Linked DNA regions of Homo sapiens: region 2 is linked to region 1. The links come from fine-mapping of genetic effects on gene expression. A gene starts in region 1. The other region holds a variant in brackets. All regions are shown on one strand. Distances are from middle to middle. Region 1 holds the start of MAP2K2 (mitogen-activated protein kinase kinase 2). Region 2 overlaps MAP2K2 (mitogen-activated protein kinase kinase 2).

What was found. PIP is the estimated chance that this variant, and not a neighbour inherited with it, causes the effect.
Region 2: its variant is fine-mapped to the expression of MAP2K2 in whole blood (TOPMed, PIP 0.98).

What each region holds. Positions count from the first base shown.
Region 1 is chr19:4,119,738-4,130,445 of GRCh38, forward strand. It overlaps MAP2K2 (mitogen-activated protein kinase kinase 2), which reads right to left and starts at 4,385. Exons shown (of 11, transcript NM_030662.4): 1 at 4,047-4,385. The coding sequence starts at 4,138. RefSeq lists silencers at 3,978-4,227, 4,418-4,537.
Region 2 is chr19:4,083,856-4,094,255 of GRCh38, forward strand. MAP2K2 (mitogen-activated protein kinase kinase 2) reads right to left here. Exons shown (of 11, transcript NM_030662.4): 11 at 6,466-6,853. The coding sequence ends at 6,743. Among named protein-coding and RNA genes, the nearest start is that of ZBTB7A, 22 kb to the left of the region's middle. RefSeq lists enhancers at 800-939, 5,431-5,600, 5,879-6,655, 6,011-6,090. The variant CCT/C (reference allele first, on the strand shown) is at 6,481.

The sequences.
Region 1 (10,708 bases):
GCTTTAAATGGCTCTCTGGAAGAACAGGCCACCTCCAGAGGTCCCAATTCAGGAAGGAGCTAAAGCCAAGGTGGACAGCCAGAGAGGGGACTGAAGCAGGGAATGAAGGCGTGGACTGCTCCTTCCATCTGGAAATTTCCAATCCCAAAGTTCGACCACTGTTCGCCTACAGCTGGAAGTGGCGTAAGCCACGGGGCACACAGGCCAGAACCGAGGCGATGGCGCTGGAGCTGGTGCTGCAAAGAGCTCGCTGGAAGGCAGGGGCCTGGGCACCGCTTCCTGGGCTGGACAAACACCATCTCATTCCATTCTCACCATCGTCCCCGGAGGCCCAGGCAGGAGGGAACAGACTCACAGGGGTGGGGGAACCTGCCCGAGGTAACAACACCTGCCTGAGGTCAGGACAACCCCTGCTCATCTTAGTGTCCCCCATGAGGGGAAACAGGGCCCTAGTAGGTGCTCACTGAGGAGCTGCTGAACAAGGACCCAGAAGAAGCAGAAATGGCGAGACCCTGGGAGTGGGACAGAAGGTAAGGAGGGGAACATGAATGAATGAATGAATAACATCAATGAATAAATGAATATTTATTTTTTTTGAGACAGTCTTGCTCTGTCGCCCAGGCTGGAGTGCACTGGCACGATCTCAGCTCACTGCAACCTCTGCCTCCTGGGTCCAAGCGATTCTCCTGCCTCAGCCTCCTGAGTAGCTGGGATTACAGGTGTGCATCACCGCGCTCAGCTAATTTTTTTGGCATTTTTAATAGAGACGGGGTTTTGCCATGTTGGCCAGGTTGGTCTTGAACTCTGGGCCTCAAGTAATCCACCCACCTTGGCCTCCCAAAGGGCTGGGATTACAGGCGTGAGCCACCACACCCAGCCATGAATGAACACTTCTGATGGCAGACTTGGAAGGTCTCAAGTACTGCTCAAAACATTGAAAATGCATTCTGGAGTCAGCTGACTAATCCATCTTAAATTTACTGGCAACCCAACTGTGGTTATTAAACAAAACAAAACAAAACCTTGGCGTCCCTACAGCCAGCTTCCTCTCCTGGGGGAATCCTTCAAGAGATGGGAATCAAACCCCACACGGAAGAGAAATGTGAAGGGCGAGTTCTGTGCAGAGAATGAGGAACGGGTCCCCGTGTCTGGCTGTGCCCGTGTTGACTTGCACACATTGGCATCAAGAGTCTTCATCTGGGTCACAGAAGGCCGACCCCCAAGCGGGAGAGGCCACCAGACATGCCACAGTCCCTGACACCTGGTTCTTGAGGGGTCACACCGCAGGCACGGCACCCGGACCCCAGCCAAGGGCCCCGGGGATCGCCCTGCCCTGCCTCGGCCTGCAGAACGGGAGTGCAGAGATCACCCTGGCATGACCCCACCAGTGTGTGCCCCCAACACCCAGTCCCCTCCCTCGTCCTGGAGCAGTGCGATTCTGCCAGCACGCCACCCGGACCCCAGCATACCCCTTTCTCAGATCCCTTCACCCAGGCCTCTGGTCGCCCTCCACCTCCTCAAAGCTTCTGCACTGGGTCAGCCCCTCACAAGGGTTTTCCGGTCCACTCACTTCAGAATCTGCACCTCTGCTTTCAGGGGCCAGCAGGGTCCCCTGATCCCCACGCCTCCTCGTTCCTCACACTCTGGCTTCCCTGTCTCCTCACACTTCCAGCTTCAGGGACTCCACACACTGGGCACCGCCACAAGCAGGAGATGCCCTCTCAGAGATGCCCATCTTGACATCTTGACCTCCCTGGGACCCCATCCTGACCCCCTCAGAACCCCAACATGAGACCCCTAGGACCCCCTGCTCTGCCCTCCCAGAACCCCCACAACATGACCCCCCGAGGACCCCCTAACCTGACCCCCCCAGAATCCCCCAACATGACCCCCGAGGACCCAACCTGACCCCCCCCACAACATGAACCCCCTGGAACCCCTGTCCTGATCCCACTAGACCTCCCCCAGCAGAAACCCCTCCATCTGGAACCCGCTAGAACTCCCATCCTGACCCCGCTAAAGCCCCCCCATGTCCTGACACCCCTAAGACACCCCCTTGTCCTCAGATACCCCAGAACTCCCACCCTGACCCCCCCAAAGTCCCCCGATCCTGACCTTTCTAGGGTCTCCCACCCCATCGTGACCCCCTAGGACACCCCTCTCCCACATCCTGACCCTTCTGGGAGCCCCCTGTCCTCCCCTCTCTTCCCTTTTCCCTGGTTGTCTATGGACCTCCTCACCCCATCCTCTCCCCTAAGGGACCCCCCTGCCCCACCTTGGCACCCTAGGTGCCCTCTTCATCCCATGCCAACCTCATTACTCAGGGACTCATTCCCCAAAAGGACCGCTCCCCGCCCCCCCAAGACCTCTCAGCCTGTCCTCCCCACCCAGGTGCTGCACTCTCAACCTGTGGCTCAGGCACCCTCCCACCCCATCTCTCCCCCATAGGAACCCTCCCACCCCATCTCTCCCCCATAGGGACCCTCCCACCCCATCTCTCCCCCATAGGGACCCTCCCACCCCATCTCTCCCCCATAGGGACCCTCCCACCCCATCTCTCCCCCACAGGGACCCCCTCACCCCATCTCTCCCCCATAGGGACCCCCTCACCCCATCTCTCCCCCATAGGGACCCTCCCACCCCATCTCTCCCCCATAGGGACCCCCTCACCCCATCTCTCCCCCATAGGAACCCTCCCACCCCATCTTTCCCCCATAGGGACCCCCTCACCCCATCTCTCCCCCAAGGGACTCGCTTCACTATCATTTCAATATGCAGAACACCCCTTGCCTATCCTTCCCCCACAGGCCCCCACCGACACATCCTCTCCTCCCAGGGACCCCCTCAACCCCATCTCACAATTCAGGGGCCCTGCACCCCATCTTCTCTCTGCAAGGACATCTCCTTGGCCTGATCTCACGACTTAGGGATTCCAAACCCCATCTTTTCCCCAAAGGGATCTCCCCTCACTCCAATCTCATTACTCAGGGACCCCACCATCTCCCCGATTTCACTATTCAGGGACCGTTCACCCCATTTCACTACTCAGAGACCTACCACCATTCTGCTACTCAGTGACTCCATGCCCTGTCTTTTCCCACAGGGACCTCCCTTGGCCCTATCTCATTATTGAGGGACCCTTACCCCGTCTTTTCCTACCAGGGACCCTACCCCATCTCAGTCTCATTACTCAGGGACCCCTCACCCCATCCTCTCCCCTCTGGAGCCCCCTTGCCCAGATTTCCTCCTCAGGGGCTGCCTGACCTCCCCACACCCCATCCTCTCCTCTCAGGAATGCCCTGCACCCCGATTTCCCTACTCAGGGTCTCCCCTCACCCTCATCTCATGACTACGGCAACCTTTACTCCGTCCTTTCCTCTTAGGAACTCTTCACCCTCATTTCACTACTCAAGGACCCCACACTGTGTTCTCTCCTCTTAGAGATACCCCTCACCCCGATCTCACTGCTTGGGGAGCCTCATCCTGTTCTCTCCTTGGGGACACCCCTCATTCCGATTTTCCTACTGAGGGACTCCCCTCACCCCAGCTTCACTTTTCAGAAGCCCCACACCCCATCTTCTGCACTGCAGGGACCTCCCCTCACTCAACCTCGCTGCTCAGGGACCCCTGTCCCCATCCTCTCCTCTTAGAGACATCCTTCACCCCAACTTCACTACTCAGAGACTCCCGTTATCCCAATTCCACTCTTCAGGAACCCCACACCCCATCTTTTCCACCACAAGGACCTCCCCTCGCCCAATCTCACTGCTCAAAGACCCCCCTGCCCCGTGCACCCTTCGCCCCGTCCTCCGAGGGCCCCCTGCCCCGTCCTCCCCCGAGGGCCCCCTGCCCCGTCCTCCCCCGAGGGTCCCCTGCCCTGTCCTCCCCTCGAGAACCCCCTGCCCCGTGCACCACTCACCCCGTCCTCCCCCGTGACCCCCCTGCCTCGTGCACTCCTCGCGAACCCCCGTCCCCTCGCCCCGTCCTTCCCCGAGGGCTCCCTGCCCCGTGCACCCCAAGCCTCCGGCTGACCCCTGCCCACTCACTCGGAGGCGCCCTCGCTGGTAGGGGATGGGCCCTCGGCGATGGTAGGGTTGATGGTGAGCGCCGGCAGCACCGGCTTCCTCCGGGCCAGCATCGGGGCTCCGCGGGCCGGCGGCGGCGGCGCCTCTAGCCGGGGCCCATAGGGGGCGGGCCGGGAGCGGTCGGCGCCTACGCGAGCCCGGGGCTGCGGCCGCGGCCCAGGCCGGCGTCGGGGCGGCCGAGGGCGGGCGGCGCTGCGGGCCTGGGCCGAGGGTAGCCGAGGGGCGCTGGGGCTGAGGCGAGCGAGCCGCTACCGCTGCCGAGGCCCGAAGAAGGCTGACGCCGCAGCCCGAGTCCGAGAGGCAGGGGGAGGGGAGGGGCGGCCACAAGATCGCGGACCGGCTTCTCGCGATAACGGGATCGGGAGCCGCGATGGACCCCACCCCCAGCCGCCGCGCCTGCGCAGCAGCACAAGGCCGCCTTTCGGAGGGGAAAGGGGCGGAGACCGACGCGAGGCGGTGCCGGGACCGGGCGCCCTCGCTTGCCTTACCACGGCGCGTGTGCCCAAGCGCTTGGGGCATGAGGCGCGGGAGCAGGGGAGGAGACGGAGGGATGAAGGCTGGGGTGATGGTCGTGCACAGGTGGGCAGGGTAGCCAGACTCCTGAGAGCCTGTGGTGCCCCAGGCTGGGGCTGAGAGAACCCGTAAGACCCCAGAACAGTGGACGAGACCCACCCAGAGTCCATTTAATCTTTTTGGCAAGCGTGGACACACGCCCCTAGCCCCCACCGCCTTAGAGTGTCAGTTACTCCCCCTCCTTCATCAGAACAAGGCCACTCTAAAACATTTTTAAAATTTATTTTAATTGACAAATAAAATTGCATATATTACTATGCGCATGTTGAAACATTTTTATTATAAAATACACATAACATAAAACTTGTCATTTTAACCATTTCTAAATGCACAGCTCAGCGGCATTAAGCAACCACCACCACCACCATCTCCAGAATTTTCTCATCTTCCGAAACTGAAACACTGTCCCCTATGAAACCTCACTCCCTATCCCCCTCCCCAGCCCCTGGAACCCAACGTCGTACTTCCTGTGAATCTGATGATTCTAGGGACTTCATATGAGTAGGATCACACAGGTTTTGTCCCTTTGTGGCTGGCATATTTCACTGAGGGCCACGTCCTCAAGGTGCCTGTTGTAGCTGTGTTAGATCCACGTTGTAACCTGTGTTAGAATTTACCCACTTGACTACTCCGGGCATACTTCCAATCGGGTAGCCCTGCTCCAAAAAAGAGCAGAAAAAAAAAAAAAAAGAAAAATTTCCCTTTTTTTTTTTTTGAGACGGAGTCTCGCTCTGTCACCCAGGCTGGAGTGCAGTGGTGCGATCTCGGCCCACTGCAAACTCTGCCTCCCGGGTTCACGCCATTCTCCTGCCTCAGCCTCCCGAGTAGCTGGGACTACAGGTGCCCACCACCATGCCCGGCTAATTTTTTTGTATTTTTAGTAGAGACGGGGTTTCACCGTGTTAGCCAGGATGGTCTCCATCTCCTGACCTCGTGATCCACCCGCCTCGATCTCCCAAAGTGCTGGGATTACAGGCGTGAGCCACCGCACCCAGTCAGGATTTTCCTCCTTTTTAAGGCTGAATAATATTCTATTGTGTGCATGGACTATATTTTGCTTATCCATTTATCTGCCACTAGACACTTCGGTGAATCGTGCCGCTATGAACACAGATGTACAAATATCTGTTTGAGTCCTTGCCTTGAGTTCTTTTGGGTATATGTTCTGAAGAGGAATTACTGGATTATATGGTAATTCTATGTTGAACTTTTTGAAGCACCACCTTACTATTTAATACAATAGCCGTACCACTTTATAAGAAAGGTCATAGGCTGGGCGCGGTGGCTCACGCCTGTAATCCCAGCACTTTGGGAGGTCGAGGCGGGTGGATCACCTGAGGTCAGGAGTTGAAGACGAGTCTGGCCAACATGGTGAAACCCCGTCTCTACTAAAACAAAAAAATACAAAAATTAGCCGGGCATGGTGGCGCGTGCCTGTAATCCCAGCTACTCGCGAGGTTGAGGCAGAAGAATTGCTTGAACCCGGGAGGCAGAGGTTGCAGTGAGCCAAGATCACGCCATTGCACTCCAGCTTGGGAGACAAGAGCGAGACTTCGTCTCAAAAAAATCAAACAAACAAACAAACAAACAAATAAATAAATAAAATACAAAAATTAGCCAGGCCTGGCGGTGTGTGCCTATAGTCTCAGCTACTCAGGCGGCTGAGGCAGGAGAATCGCTTGAACCCGGGGGGCAGACGTTGCAGTGAGCCAAGATTGCACCACTGCCCTCCAGCCTGGGCGACAAAGTAAGACTCCGTCTCCAATAAAACAGAACAAAAAAAAATTTAATTTTTTGCCAGGTGCCGTGGCTCACACCTGTAATCCCAGGACCCTGGGAAGCTGAGGTGGGCTGATCACTTGAGGTCAGGAGTTCGAGACCAACCTGGCCAACATGGTGAAACCTCGTCTCTACTAAAAATACAAAAATTACACAGGTGTGGTGGCGGGTGGCTGTAATTCCAGCTACTAGGGAGGCTGAGGTGGGATAACTGAACCCCGGAGGCGGAGGTTGCAGTGAGCCGAGATTGTGCCATCGCATTCCAGCCTGGGCGACAGAGCCAGACTCACGCTCAAAAAACAAAACCAACCAACTGGCCGGGCGCGGTGGCTCACGCCTGTAATCCCAGCACTTTGGGAAGCCAAGGCAGGTGGATCATGAGGTCAAGAGATTGAGACTATCCTGGCCAACATGGTGAAACCCCGTCTCTACTAAAAATACAAAAATTAACTGGGTGTGGTGATGCGTGCCTGTAGTCCCAGCTACTCGGGAGGCTGAGGCAGGAGAATCGCTTAAACCCGGGAGGTGGAGGTTGCAGTGAGCCGAGATCACGCCATTGCACTCCAGCCTGGGCGACCGACCGAGACTCCATCTCGAAAAAAACAAAACAAAACAAAACAACAAACAAAACACTGCTCCTGGGGAAGCCTGCTCCTGGGTTTTTACAATCTGGGCCTTTCAGTTTTACTTCTCATCGCTCCCACCCGCTTGTCCAAAATTCAGATGGATGCATATGTGGCCTCAAATAAGGACAGGCCCTTTCAGAGACAGGGCTATTTCCATGTTCCTTCTGTTTTGCCTAGCAATCTTTCTCCCATTTTATCCTATTTTAGGCTTTTTTTTTCTTTTTAAGACAAGTTCTGACTCTGTCACCCAGGCCTCAGGCTGGAGTGCAGTGGCACGATCATAACTCTCTGCAGCCTCCACCTCCCTGGCTCAAGCGATTCTCCCACCTCAGCCTCCCTAGTAGCCCTGGCTACAAACATACGCCACCACACTCGGCTAATTTTTGTATTTTTTGTCCAGACAGGGTTTCTCCATGTCACTCAGGCTGGTCTCACACTCCTAGGCTCAAGCGATCCTCCTGCCTCGTCCTCAGCAGTGCTGGGACTAGAGCCGTGAGCCACTGCACTCACCTATTAATGCACAAGTTTCTGAAGTTCAATTTCTTGGATTATTACAACTCTATACATCCATGTAACACTTCCCCTTACTCCAGAAAGTCTGTTCACTGCCTTTTTAGTTCATTCTCTTCCTCTGCACCCAGCAGTAGTGAGCTGGTAAATGTTTAACAATGAGCCATTAAAATAAGGAGAGGCCGGGTGTGGTGGCTCACACCTGCAATCCCAGCACTTTGGGAGGCCAAAGCAGGTGATCACTTGAGGTCAGGAGTTCGAGTCCAGCCTGGCCAACATGGTGAAACCCCATCTCTACTAAATATACAAAAATTAGGCTGGTCACGGGTGTAATCACAGCACTTTGGCAAGCCGAGGTGGGCAGATCACCTGAGGTCAAGAGTTCAAGACCAGCCTGACCAACATGGTGAAACCCCGTCTCTACTAAAAACACACAAAAATTAGCCGGGCATGGTGGTGGGCACCTGTAATCCCAGCTACTCGGGAGGCTGAGGCAGGAGAACTGCTTGAACCCCGGAGGTGGAGGTTGCAGTGAGCCAAGATTGTGCCCCTGCACTCCAGCCTGGGCAACAGAGTAAGGCTCCATCTCGGAAAAAAAAAAAAAATTAGCTGGGCATGGTGGCAGGTGCCTGTAGTCTCAGCTACTTGGGAGGCTGAGGCACGAGAATTACTTGAACCTGAGAGGTGGAGGTTGCAGTGAGCCAAGATCGTGCCACCGCACTCCAGCCTGAGGGAGACTCTGTCTCAAAAAAAAAAAAAAAAAGAAGAAGACCAGATGTGGTGGCTCATGCCTATAATCCCTGCACTTTGGGAGGCCGAGGCGGGTGGATCACCTGAGGTCGGGAGTTCGATACCAGCCTGACCAACATGGACAAACCCTGTCTCTACTAAAAATACAAGGCCGGGCGCGGTGGCTCACGCCTGTAATCCCAGCACTTTGGGAGGCTGAGGCAGGCAGATCACGAGGTCAGGAGATCGAGACCAGAGACCATCCTGGCTAACACAGTGAAACCCTGTCTCTACTAAAAATACAAAAAAATTAGCCAGGCGTGGTGGCGGGCACCTGTAGTTCCAGCTACTCAGGAGGCTGAGGCAGGAGAATGGTGTGAACCCGGGAGGTGGAGCTTGCAGTGAGCTGAGATTTCGCCACTGCACTCCAGCCTGGGCAAGAGAGCAAGACTCTGTCTAAAAAAATAAATAAATAAAAATAAAAATACAAAACTAGCCAGGTGTGGTGGCACATGCCTGTAATCCCAGCTACGAGGGAGGCTGAGGCAGGAGAATCGCTTGAACCCAGGAGGTGGAGGTTGTGGTGAGCCGAGATGGTGCCACTGTACTCCAGCCTGGGCAACGAGAGTGAAAGTCAGTCTCAAAAAAAATAAAGTTGACAATGGTATCAAAGATGCTTACGAGTGGCTGTAAGCCAGCTGCAGTCCACTACTACTCCCAAAACCCCCCCAGATTCTGCGTTCTATCCCCATAGATTAGTTTTTGCCTGTTCAAGAGTTTCATGTAAATGGAATTGCACTCATGGTGTCAGTTCTTTTTTTTTTTTTTTTTTTTTGAGACAGAGTCTCACTCTGTCACCCAGGCTGGAGTGCAGTGGCACGATCTCGGCTCACTGCAACTTCCACCTCCGAGGTTCAAGCGATTCCCGTGCCTCAGCCTCCGGAGTAGCTGGGATTATAGGCGTGTGCTACCACACCCAGCTAATTTTTGTATTTTTAGTAGAGATGGGGTTTCACCATATTGGCCAGGCTGGTCTTGAACTCCTGATCTCGTGATCCACCTGCCTCGGCCTCCCAGAGTGCTGGAATTATAGGCTGGGATTACAGGCGTGAGCCACCGCACCCGGCCTGGTGTCAGCTCTTTCTGCTTTAGGACAATGTTTTGTTTTTGGTTTTGGTTTTGTTTTAGACAGGATTTTCCTTTATTGCACAGGCTGGAGTGTAGTGGTGTGATCTCAGCTCACTACAGCCTCCACTTTCTGGGCTCAAGCCATCCTCCCACCTCAGCCTCCGGAGTAGCTGGGACTACAGGCTCCCACCGCCATGCCCAACTAATTTTATATTTTTTGTGGAGATGGGGGGGTCTCATCATGTTGCCCATGCTGGTCTCAAACTCCTAGGCTCAAATGACCCCAGTGACTTGGCCTCCCAAAGTGCTGGGATTACAGGCGTCAGTCACTGTACCAGGTCCTGAGACAATATTTTTGAGATTCATTTATATTATTTCACATAACGATAATTAGTTCGGTTTCCTTGCTAGATGATATCCCATTGTATGTACTGTGGGCATTGCCCTTGACATAGAACAGTAAATGAATCATCCTTCTGGCCGGGCGCGGTGGCTCACGCCTCTAATCCCAGCACTTTGGGAAGCCGAGGCGGGTGGATCACGAGGTCAGGAGATCAAGACCATCCTGACTAACATGGTGAAACCCCGTCTCTACTAAAAATACAAAAAAAATTAGCAGGGCGTGGGGGCAGGCGCCTGTAGTCCCAGCTACTTGGGAGGCTGAGGCAGGAGAATGCCGTGAACCCAGGAGGCGGAGCTTGCAGTGAGCCGAGATCGCGCCACTGCACTCCAGCCTGGGTGATTGAGCAAGACGGTCTGTCTCAATAAGTAAGTAAGTAAATAAATAAATATATAAATTCTCCTTCTTTTTTTTGGAGACGATCTCACTCTGTTACCCAGGCTGGAGTGCAGTGGTGTAATCACTGCTCACTGCAGCCTCTACCTCCCGGGATCAGGTGATCCTCCTGCCTCAGCCTCCTGAGTAGCCGGGATGACAGGTGCACACCACCATGCCCAGCTAATTTTTTATTTTTTGTAGAAATGGGCAAGGGGAGTCTCACCATCTTACCCAGGCTGGTCTCAAACCCATGGGCTCAAGCGATCCTCCTGCCTCAGCCTCCCAAAGTGCTGGGATTACAAGTGTGAGCCACCAAGCCCAGCCTGTTATGAACTTTTTTTTTTTTTTTGACAGGGAGTCTTGCTCTGTCACCTGGGCTGGAGTGCAGTGGCGCAATCTCGGCTCACTGCAACCTCCGCCTCCTGGGTTCAAGCGATTCTCCTGCCTCAGCCTCCTGAGTAGCTGGGATTACAGGTGCGCGTGCCACCACCCCCGGCTAA
Region 2 (10,400 bases), 36 kb before region 1:
GGCTGAGGCAGGAGGATCGCTGGAACCTGGGAGGCGGAGGCTGAAGTGAGCTATGATGGCGCGCCACTGCCCTCCAGCCTGGGCAACAGAGTGAGACCCTGCCTCAAACAAAAACGTAAACAAAACAGGAGGCCCTGCTCTCCTGAGGGGCTGGTGGTGAGTCACTGGTAGATGGGAGAGAGCTGGGGTCAGGGTCCCAGCTGGGGGGGTGGGTCCTCACCTGTGCTACCCTCCAGGGGGCCTCTCTCCAGGCCTCTGTCCCTCCCCTGGGAAGCCTGGCAGAAACCTGAGACTGGGCCTCCAGTTCCAGGTCGCCACTGGGCCCAGGCCTCTCCTGTCCGCCTGCCAGGGACTGCGGAACAGGTAACTCCTGCGCCACCCTAAACCCACCTGGCCTGTTGCTCCAGGTGCGGCCTGGAGGCCCCGGGGCCTGCACACCTGGTCAGCTCAGAGGCCAGGAAGAGGAGCGGAGGGAGGGGTGGGGCCGCCGGCCGCTGCTGGTTTCGTTTTGAGCCGGGCCCCTTCTTCCTCCCTCCCTCCCACTCCTCGCCAGACCCCTGCATTCTGGGAAAGGCTGTGACAACTTCCTCTGAACTCTCCTTAACCTGCCCTGGAGCCCAGGGCCTCCAGGAGGCTGAGTTCCGCCTGCGGGACCTGAGGCTTCCTGCAGGTCACACACCTCCACCCCTGGCCACGTGGCCCTAGACCGCCCACCTTCTAGAAGCTTCTTTATGTGCTGCCCCATCATGTCCCCACCCCGGGTGCAGCTGTCCCCTGCCTGCACCCCCTCCACCCTGTGTCCCAGACTCTGCACACAGGAAACCGCCCTGGCCCCAGGGAGGGCTGCCTGAGACCCCCGCCTCCAACCTGCACTGGGGACATCTGGGCTGGATGGTCCTCGGGAGGTGGGGCTGCCTTGGGCACTGCAGGGTGCTGGGTGACATCTCTGGCCTCCATCCATTCCATGGCAGGGGCACCCCCTGTCTCGACAACCACAGACGTCTGGGAGTTTCCAAGCCTCCCCTGGGTGGGGGGACAGAATTGTTCCTGCTAAGATCCAGTGGATTAAAAGACATCTGTGAGGGGACAGAAATGACTGAGTTTTGTGCCGGCCGGTCAGGCAGTCCCTGGCAGACAAAATTCCCAAGTATTTGCATCCAAAAAAACAAAACAAAACAAAACAAAACAAAACCACCCAGCGTGGTGGCTCACACCTGTCATCCTAGCACTTTGGGAGGCCAAGGCGGTCAGATCATTGAAGTCAGGGGTTCGAGACCAGCCTGGCCAACATGGTGAAACCCTGTCTCTACTAAAAATACAAAAATTAGCCGGGTGTGGTGGCACATGCCTGTAATCCCAGCTACTCGGGAGACTGAGGCAGGAGAATCGCTTGAACCCGGGAGGTGGAGGTTGTGGTGAGCCGAGATCACGCCACTGCACTCCAGCCTGGGCAGCAAAGCGAGACTCCATCTCAAAAAAAAAAAAAAAAAGAGAGAAAAACCTAAATATTTCATATTGATTCCAAGGTGAAACGGGAATATTTTGGCTCTGCTGGGTGAAATATACTATCAAATCATCTGTTCTTTTCCTCTATTTTGTTTATTAATATTTATTTATTTATTTATTTATTGAGATGGAGTCTGTCTCCCTCTGTTGCCAGGCTGGAATGCAGGGGCGCGGGGTGGAACAGGTAACTCCTGCGCCCCTGCCTCAGCCTCCCAAGTAGTTGGGATTACAGGTGCCCACAACCATGCCCAGCTAATTTTTGTATTTTTTGTAGAGATGGGCTTTCATCATGTTGGCCAGGCTGGTCTTGAACTCTTAACCTCAGGTGATCACCCACCTTGGCCTCCCAAAGTGCTGGGATTACAGGCATGAGCCCCTGCACCAGAACGGTATTTATTTTTTTTGAGACAGAGTCTCGCTCTGTCACCCAGGCTGGAGGGCAGTGGCATGATATTGGCTCACTGCAGCCTCCGTCTCCTGGGTTTAAGTGAACAGGCCGGCTAATTTTTGTTTGTTTGTTTGTTTTGAGACAGAGTGTTGCTCTGTCGCCCAAGCTGGAGGGCAGTGGCACGATCTTGGCTCACTGCAGCCTTCCTCTCCTGGGTTTAAGTGAACACGCTGGCTAATTTATGTTTGCTTGAGATGGAGTCTCGCTCTGTTGCCCAGGCTGGAGTGCAGTGGCATGATCTCAGCTCACTGCAAGCTCCACCTCCCAGGTTCAAGGGATTCTCCTGCCTCAGCCTCCCTAGTAGCTGGGATTACAGGCGCCCGCCACCATGCCTGGCTAATTTTTGTATTTTTAGTAGAGATGGGATTTCACCATGTTGCCCAGGCTGGTCTCGAACTCCTGACCTCAAGTGATCCTCCCGCCTTGGCCTCCCAATGTGCTGGGATTATAGGCGTGGGCCACTGTGCCCAGCCCTTTCTATTTAAAATGTTTTAACAGGGAAATCCTGCTAAAACTGGGAAATGTACATTTCGTCTGGGGTGCAATGTGCACATTGGGTTGGGGTGGCAGGGATGGGGACAGGACGGGGACGCTATGGCGTGGTGCCCCGCGTGGAATCTCACCCTCTGGGCGGCTGGTTGCTTCTCCGGCCTCATTTCATTTGATGACCTTTCCACTTGCCCCACCCCGAGGCGGTTGTTGCAGGAGGAGAAGGAAGTATGTGCCTGTCCCAGGGCCGGCCTGGGTCCCACCTGGGGAGAATTCCACAGGATGAAGCGAGCAGGCAGTCGCCTGTGACCCCAGCTTCATAAATCAAATATGTTAGCAAATCCTGCCCGGCACACAGCCTGGGGCACTTGCATGGAGCCAGTGACTTTTTGGTGTGTCCGGGGACAGACTGCACTATGGAGAGGGATGTCAGGGCTGCCCATGCTCTCCGGAGGCAGAAGCCAGCACATATGAGCAAGTCAAGCGCTGTTTATTTACGATGAAAATACCAAGCTGGGGGGTGGGCGTGGTGGCTCACGCCTGTAACCTCAGCACTTTGGGAGGCCGAGGCGGGTGGACGGCTTGAGGTCAGGAGTTTGAGACCAGCCTGGGCAACATGGTGAAACCCTGTCTCTACTAAAACACAAAAATTAGCTGGGTGTGGTGGGCACCTGTAGTCCCAGCTACTCGGGAGGCTGACACACAAGAATCAGTTGAACCGGGAGGTGAAGGTTGCAGTGAGCTGAGATTATGCCACTGCACTCCAGGCTGGGCGACAGAGCAATACTCTGTCTGGAAAAAAAAATACCGAGCTGGGAAAACAGCCGACAAAACACTGTAGGAGTCTTCTTGGGGCCACAGGTGGTGTGCCCCAGGTCCACGTGGGCCTCAGACATGGGGGCAGGGCTATCATGTTGTCGAGAAGTTTTTTTTTTTTTTTTTGAGACAGAGTCTTGCTCTGTCGCCCAGGCTGGAGTGCAGTGGCGCGATCTCGGCTCACTGCAACCTCCGCCTCCCGGGTTCAAGCGATTCTCCTGCCTCAGCATCCTGAGTAGCTGGGACCACAGGCGTGCTACCATGCCTGGCTAATTTTTGTATTTTTAGTAGAGACAGGGTTTCACCATGTTGGCCAGGCTGGTCTCGAACTTCTGACCTCGTGATCCGCCCCTCTTGGCCTCCCAAAGTGCTGGGATTACAGGCATAAGCCACCGCTTCCGGCCTATCTGGAGGTTTTTAATAACCACAGAAAACCTCAACACGTCTGTGTAAAACCTTCCAATGTCAAGGAGTGAGCTGCCCCAGGGCCCCCCAAGGCCTGGCTTTCAGTGACACTCCCTTCACCCTAAAGCCCCGCAAACGTTATTTATTATTTATTTTTTATTATTTTTTTGAGACGGAGTCTCGCTGTCTCGCCCAGCCTGGAGTGCACTGACACAGTCTCAGCTCACTGTAAGCTCCGCCTCCCAGGTTCACGCCATTCTCCTGCCTCACCCTCCCCAGTAGCTGGGACTACTGGCATCCACCACCAAGCTCGACTAACTTTTTTTTGTATTTTTAGTAGAGACAGGGTTTCGCCGTGTTGGCCGGGCTGGTCTTGAACTCCTGACCTCAGGTGATCTGCCCACCTTGGTCTCAAAGTCCTGGGATTATAGGCGTGAGCCACCCAGCCCATGCCCTGCAAATTTTAAAATGCTGCATGTTTTACAGGAAAGGGTCTGGCCCCGGGAGGCAGGGAAATCCTACCCCCTGGACTGCAGCATGTCCGTGGCCAGGGCAAAAAGGGGCATCCCCAGGTGTGTAGCCACCTTTGGGAGCACCCGGGATCCCTTCCCAGGCCTCCACAGTGGAGAAAATGAGGCAACGAGTCCAAAGGACAGCAGGCAGGAGGGGGATCTCGGATGAGGCGGCGGCTGGGTCTGGGAGGTTTCTTGGGGGAGCAGGAGTTGAGAGATCTAGAAACCGCCAGGGTGGACGCACTCTTGCCACATCTACAAAGTAGTTTCTAGAAGTCTGACCCTGAAGCGAGGCAGGGAAGATAGGCAAGACCACGGCTTCTCTCCCGTCCTTCCCTCTGGGGTGCCGTGGGGCTCCAATGAAGCTGCAGGATGGCTGCGCACACCGCAGGGATCCTGGCGCGGGGTCCATCCCCACCTAGCCCAGACTGCCCCTGCTCCCCTGGGACTCCGTGTCCTTTCATTCCTTGCCAATGGCAGGGGGTGGCCGGGACCCTGGGGTTTCCAGGACCGGCCGAGGTCCCGCCGGTTTGGAGCACAGGCAGCCAACACATTCCCCCCGGCCCTCCCGGCAATCCTGAGGGTCCTGGTTACCCACAGGGCGGCACCTTCAACACTTTTTTTTTTCTCCTATTTTTTATTTTTTGGGGCCACACTCCGTCGCCCAGGCTGGAGTGTGATGGTGAGATCTTGGCTCACTGCAACCTCCACCTCCCCAGGCTCAGGTGATTCTCCTGCCTCAGCCTCCTGAGTAGCTGGGACTACAGTTGTGCACTACCATGCCCGGCCAATTTTTTTTTTTTTTTTTTTTTTTTTTTGTAGAGATAGGGTTTTACTATGTTGCTCGGGCTGGTCTTGAACTCCTGGGCTCAAGTGATCTTCTTGCCTCGGACTCCCGAAGTGTTTAGATTACAGGTGTAAGCCACCAAGCCTGGCTTTTTTTTTTTTTTTTTTAAGTCATGTGAGACTTTAGGGCAAAACATAAAGGAGAGCAGCCTGGGGAGCTGTTTGCAGGAGGTGTCAACTCATCTCTTCTTTGGTGTCTGCAGAAAAAAAAAAAAAAAAAAAGCCACACAAGACTAGAAGGGTCACCCTAAGAAGAAAAGGACAATCCAGCAGTTCCCACAGAACCACAAGCCCCCACCTTCTGCTTTGTTTCCTCCAGAAACACAGTTGCCAGCCACCCTTCCCCTACAATTCGCCCGCAGATAATATCAGCTTGCTGGTAGTCTCCAGGAAGTACTGAAGGGGGAGGCTCACAGCCTCAAGAGCTTTAGAGAGCTCAGAGGGACCCTAGAACAGCCCAGCTGCCCACCACACCTAGCCCAGAGGTGGCCTCCTCTATCCGAGCACACAGTCCCGAAGGTAGAAAGGCTGGGCTTTGGATCTCGGACAACCGGAGAAGCAGGCGATGGGCCTCCGGGAACCCCGAAGACCCCAGGACAAGCCCTCACCGTTTCATCTGCAGCCCACTGCGGCGGAACAGTTCAAAGGCCCGAAAGTGTCACATGCCCTGGTGGTCACTTCTGATTTGTTGGGCGAGGAGAGGTGACAGAACCACCCGCCCTGGGCTGGGCCTGCTGCGGACGCAGGGGGAGTGCAGGGCGTGTCTCGGGACCTGCTGGGGTTTCCAACCAAACCGACAGCTTGGAAAGCCAGCGCTTCCTTTCTGTGGGGCTGAGTCTCAGCTCAGCTGCCACTGCTGGGAGCCCCCACTCCCTGAAGCGGGGGGACAGGGAGAGGATGGTGCCACGCTGGGGAAGAGGCAGGGGCGGCCTTCCCGCGGAGGCTACGTGACAGGAGCAGTGTAGAGGAAGTGGTTTCCATCACGGAAGGCCGAAGCTCTGCCTTCCACAGGGGCAGAGATGGTGGCGGGGAGGACACAGAGGGAAACCAGGTGGCATTTCCCTTCTTTTTTTTCAGTAGCCTTGCTCTGTCACCCATGCCGGAGCGCACTGGCACCATCGAGGTTCACTGCAGCCTCAATCCCCTGGGTTCAAGCGATCCTCCCGCCTTAGGCTCCCAAAGCACTGGAATGACAGGCATGAGCCGCCGCCCCCAGCCTCACTCTCCTTCCTTTTGGTGAGAGCCGCCATCGCCTGGGGGCTCACTGCAGGTCTTCATCCCTTGACCCAAAGGGAGAGGCGAGCTCTCCCTAAGGGAGGGCCCTGCGCCCTCCAGCCTCGGCGCCCGGCGATGCGGGTCAGCTCAGGGATGTCCTCTCCGTGCTGGGCTGAAGCAAAGCCCAGCACCCAACGCCGAACGGAAGAAAGAAGCAGGATGGCGCGGTTTGCTTTTTCTCTC[CCT/C]GTTTTGTTTTGTAACCTAAGGAAGCAGAGCCTCTGAGACCACACACAGCAGCGTCGCCCGTCCCCAGAGGCACCCCGGCCAGGACGGGCAGGAGAGGAGACCCCCGTTCCTGCATGCGCTGTCGCCCCGCCACGGTGCTCTCCGCAGGGGTGAGGCAGGAGGGTGGGTGGAGGCGCCAGCCTGTCCTCAGCTGGAAGGGCGGGGCATGGACAGGGACGGTGGGCAGGTCACCAGCGGGACGCAGGGAGCCCGGCCACTGTCACACGGCGGTGCGCGTGGGTGTGCCGGGCTGGTTCAGCCGCAGGGTTTTACACAACCAGCCGGCAAAATCCACTTCTTCCACCTCGGACCGCTTGATGAAGGTGTGGTTCTGCAAGGAAAGGGGAGCCGTGAGCACCCGGGCCTGGAGTCACAGTAGGACGGGGAGGGCCAGCGTCTGCCCAGCCCTGGCAGATGGTACGGGACAGAAAGCAAAAAACAGAGGAGACCCTCCCTTCCCCACAGGAAGACGCACTCGGGGTAGGAGAGGGAAAGAAACCCAGAAAGGGGCAGCGGCGTGTGCCAGGCCTGGGAGGGGTCTCAGGATGCTGCACTCCACCTGGGGCGGGGACACCACCAGCACGGCAGCCTGCGCTCCCAGGGGAGGGTCTACGCTCGCGCAAGCCCAGGGTCCTCCGGCCGCTGTGGACACCGGGGCCGGATCATTCTCTGGCGTGGGGCCATCCTGGGTACTGCAGGGTACTGAGCAGCGTCCCTGGCCTCCACCCACTCCATGCCAGGGGCTTCCCCAAGTCGTGACACCACAATGTCCTCAGCCATTGCCAGGGTCCCCCGGAGCAGGACAGCCCAGGCAAGAACGGGCTGTTCCACAGAACTCCGCGAAGAGCATTGTACAGGCACCGTCCCACTCGCCAGCACATGAGGCTCCAGAGCCCCTGGACTGTGGCTCCCATGGCTTGAGAACAAAAGCCTCAATTTTATTTCAGTTTAACAAATTAATTAAATACTTTTACTTTAATTTTTTTTTTTTTTAGATGGAGTTTCACTCTTGTTGCCCAGGCTGGAGTGCAGTGGTGTGATCTTAGCTCACTGCAACCTCCGCCTCCCGGGTTCAAGCGATTCTCCTGCCTCACCCTCCCCAGTAGCTGGGATTACAGGCATGTGCCACCACACCCAGCTAATTTTTGTATTTTTAGTAGAGACGGGGATTCACCATGTTGGCCAGGTTGGTCTCGAACTCCTGAACTCAAATGATCCTCCTGCCTCAGCTTCCCGAAGTGCTGGGATTATAGGTGTGAGCCACCGCAACTGGCCTTAATTTTTATTTTTTGAGACAGTCTTGCTCTGTCGCACAGGCTGGAGTGCAGTGGTATGATCTCAGCTCACTGTAACCTCTGCCTCCCAGGTTCAAGCAATTCTCCCGCCTCAGCCTCCCAAGTAGCTGGGATTACAGGTGCGTGCTACCATGCCCAGCTAATTTTTGTATTTTTAGTTGAGACCGGGTTTTTCCATGTTGCCCAGGCTGGTCTCGAAATCCTGTCCTCAAATGATCCGCTCACCTCGGCCTCCCAAAGTACCGGGATTACAGGTGTGAGCCACTGTGCCCGGCCCCACTGAACACACTTCAACAGCCACGTGTGACCAGCGGTTCCTGTACAGGACAGCACAACATGAGAAGCCTCTTGGTTGGAAGGGCTGGGGGAGGAGGGCGGGTGCCCTTGGGGAAGAGGCTGTGCTGGGCCACCCCACAGTGGGTGAGTAGAGGCCTTTGGGGTTCCCAGGAGGGTGGTGTCCAGGACCTTGGGCCCCTGAATGCTGCCTCTTTTGCAGCTGGAGGCAGGCCAAGGTGCCTATCTTCCTAAAAGTCGGTGTAGGTATGGGTGAAAAACCAACCAACTTGATAGGACACATCTTGGCTAGGTCCAGGATACCCAACAGGGGAGCATTTTTAAGAAGCTGGTTCAAAAATGGCTATTTCAGCCAGGCCCAGTGGCTCATGCTTATAATCTCAGCACTCTGGGAGACCTAGGTGGGTGGATCACAAGTTCGAGACTGGCCTGGTCAACATGGTGAAACCCCATCTCTACTAAAAACACAAAAATTAGCCGGGTGTGGTGGCACGAGCCTGTAATCCCAGCTACTCGAGAGGCTGAGGCAGGAGAACCGCTTGAACCTGGAAGATGGAGTTTGCAGTGAGCCGAGATTGCGCCACTGCACTCCAGCCTGGGCAACAGAGCAAGACTCCGTCTGAGGGAAAAAAAAAGTTATTTCAACATTAGTACCCCTCTCTTTTTAGTTATTTATTTATTTTGGAGAGGCACAGTCTCACCATGTTGCCCAGGCTGGCCTTGAACTCCTGGCCTCAGAGAGCCATCCCCCTATGGCACTAGGATTCCAAGTGCCCACCACAATGCCCAGCCTGCCTCATTAAAAAAGAAAAAAAGTCACACATGCCAGGTGCAGTGGCTCACACCTGTAATCCCAGCCCTCTGGGAGGCCAAGGTGGGAGAATCATTTGAGCCCAGGAGTTTGAGACCAGCCTGGACAATTAGCAAGACCCTGTCTCTATAAAAAAAACTAGCTGGGCAGGTCGGGCACGGTGGCTCACGCCTGTAATCCCAGCACTTTGCGAGGCTGAGGCAGGCAGATCACCTGAGGTCAGGAGTTCGAGACCAGCCTGGCCAACACGGGGAAACCCCATCTCTACTAAAAATACAAAAATTAGCTGGGCGTGGTGGCAGCCACCTGTAATCCCAGCTACTTAGGAGGCTGAGGAGGCTAAGACAGGAGAATTCCCTGAACCTGGGAGGCGGAGGTTGCAGTGAGCCGAGATCGTACCACTGCACTCCAACCTGGGTGACAAGAGTGAGACTTCATCTTTGCGGGGAAAAACAAAACCCACACACAAAAACTAGCTGGGCTTGGTGGCACACATCGGTAGCCCCAGCTGCTCAGGAGGCTGAGTGGGAGGATCACTTGAGCACGGGAGTTGGGGCTACAGTGAGCTACAATCGCACCACTGCATTCCAGCCTGGGGGACAGAGCAAGGCTGTATCTCAAAAATTTTTTTGACCAGGTGCGGTGGCTCACATCTGTAATCTCTGCACTTTGGGAGGCTGAGGCAGGTGGATCACCTGAGGTCAGGAGTTTGAGGCCAGCCTGGACAACATGGTGAAAGCCTGTTTCTACTAAAAATACAAAAATTAGCCGGGTGTGGTGGCGGGTGCCTGTAATCGTAGCTACCTGGGAGGCTGACTGGAGAATTGTGTGAGCCTGGGAGGCTGAGACTGCAGTGAGCTGAGATTGCTTCACTGCACTCCAGTCTGGGCGACAGAGTGAGACTCTGTCCGACTCTCAAGAAAAAAACAAAACTGAAAGCCACATTCCAGTATTAGAAGGCACCCGGTTGGGTGTCTGTAGCTGGCATCTCTTCTTTTCTTACAGGCACAGAAAGTAACGGGCTGTCTAGGGGGGTGGCATCTCCAATCCGCCAATCAGCTGTCGAGGGGTTTGAAGGTCGCTGACGGTGGCTGTGGTATGGGAAAGCACTCGGGATGCAGGCTGGGCTGAGGGCAGGAGGATGATGCCCGGGGCCCTCCTCTGAGGGTGTAGTCCCCGCTGGGGAGGCGAGTTTTGGTGAACAGCTGGGCTTCCGAGGATATCAGAGGATGGGGGTTTAAGGGGACACCGAAGTACGCACGGCCTCGGGGGACCTGCTTGCCAGTGTGCAGAACAGGGATGGTCACCCTCTAGTTTGCAGGGAAAGGAGCCTGGGGGGCTGAGAGCTGCCTCCAGCCTCTCATGAGGGCAAAGAAGCCCGGGGTCTCATCCTGTGGGTGCGGGACCAGCACCAGGCAGGAGCGGCGGAGCTCAGAGCCCAGAGCTGTTCCCACGCACACACCCTCTGCTCCCCGCAG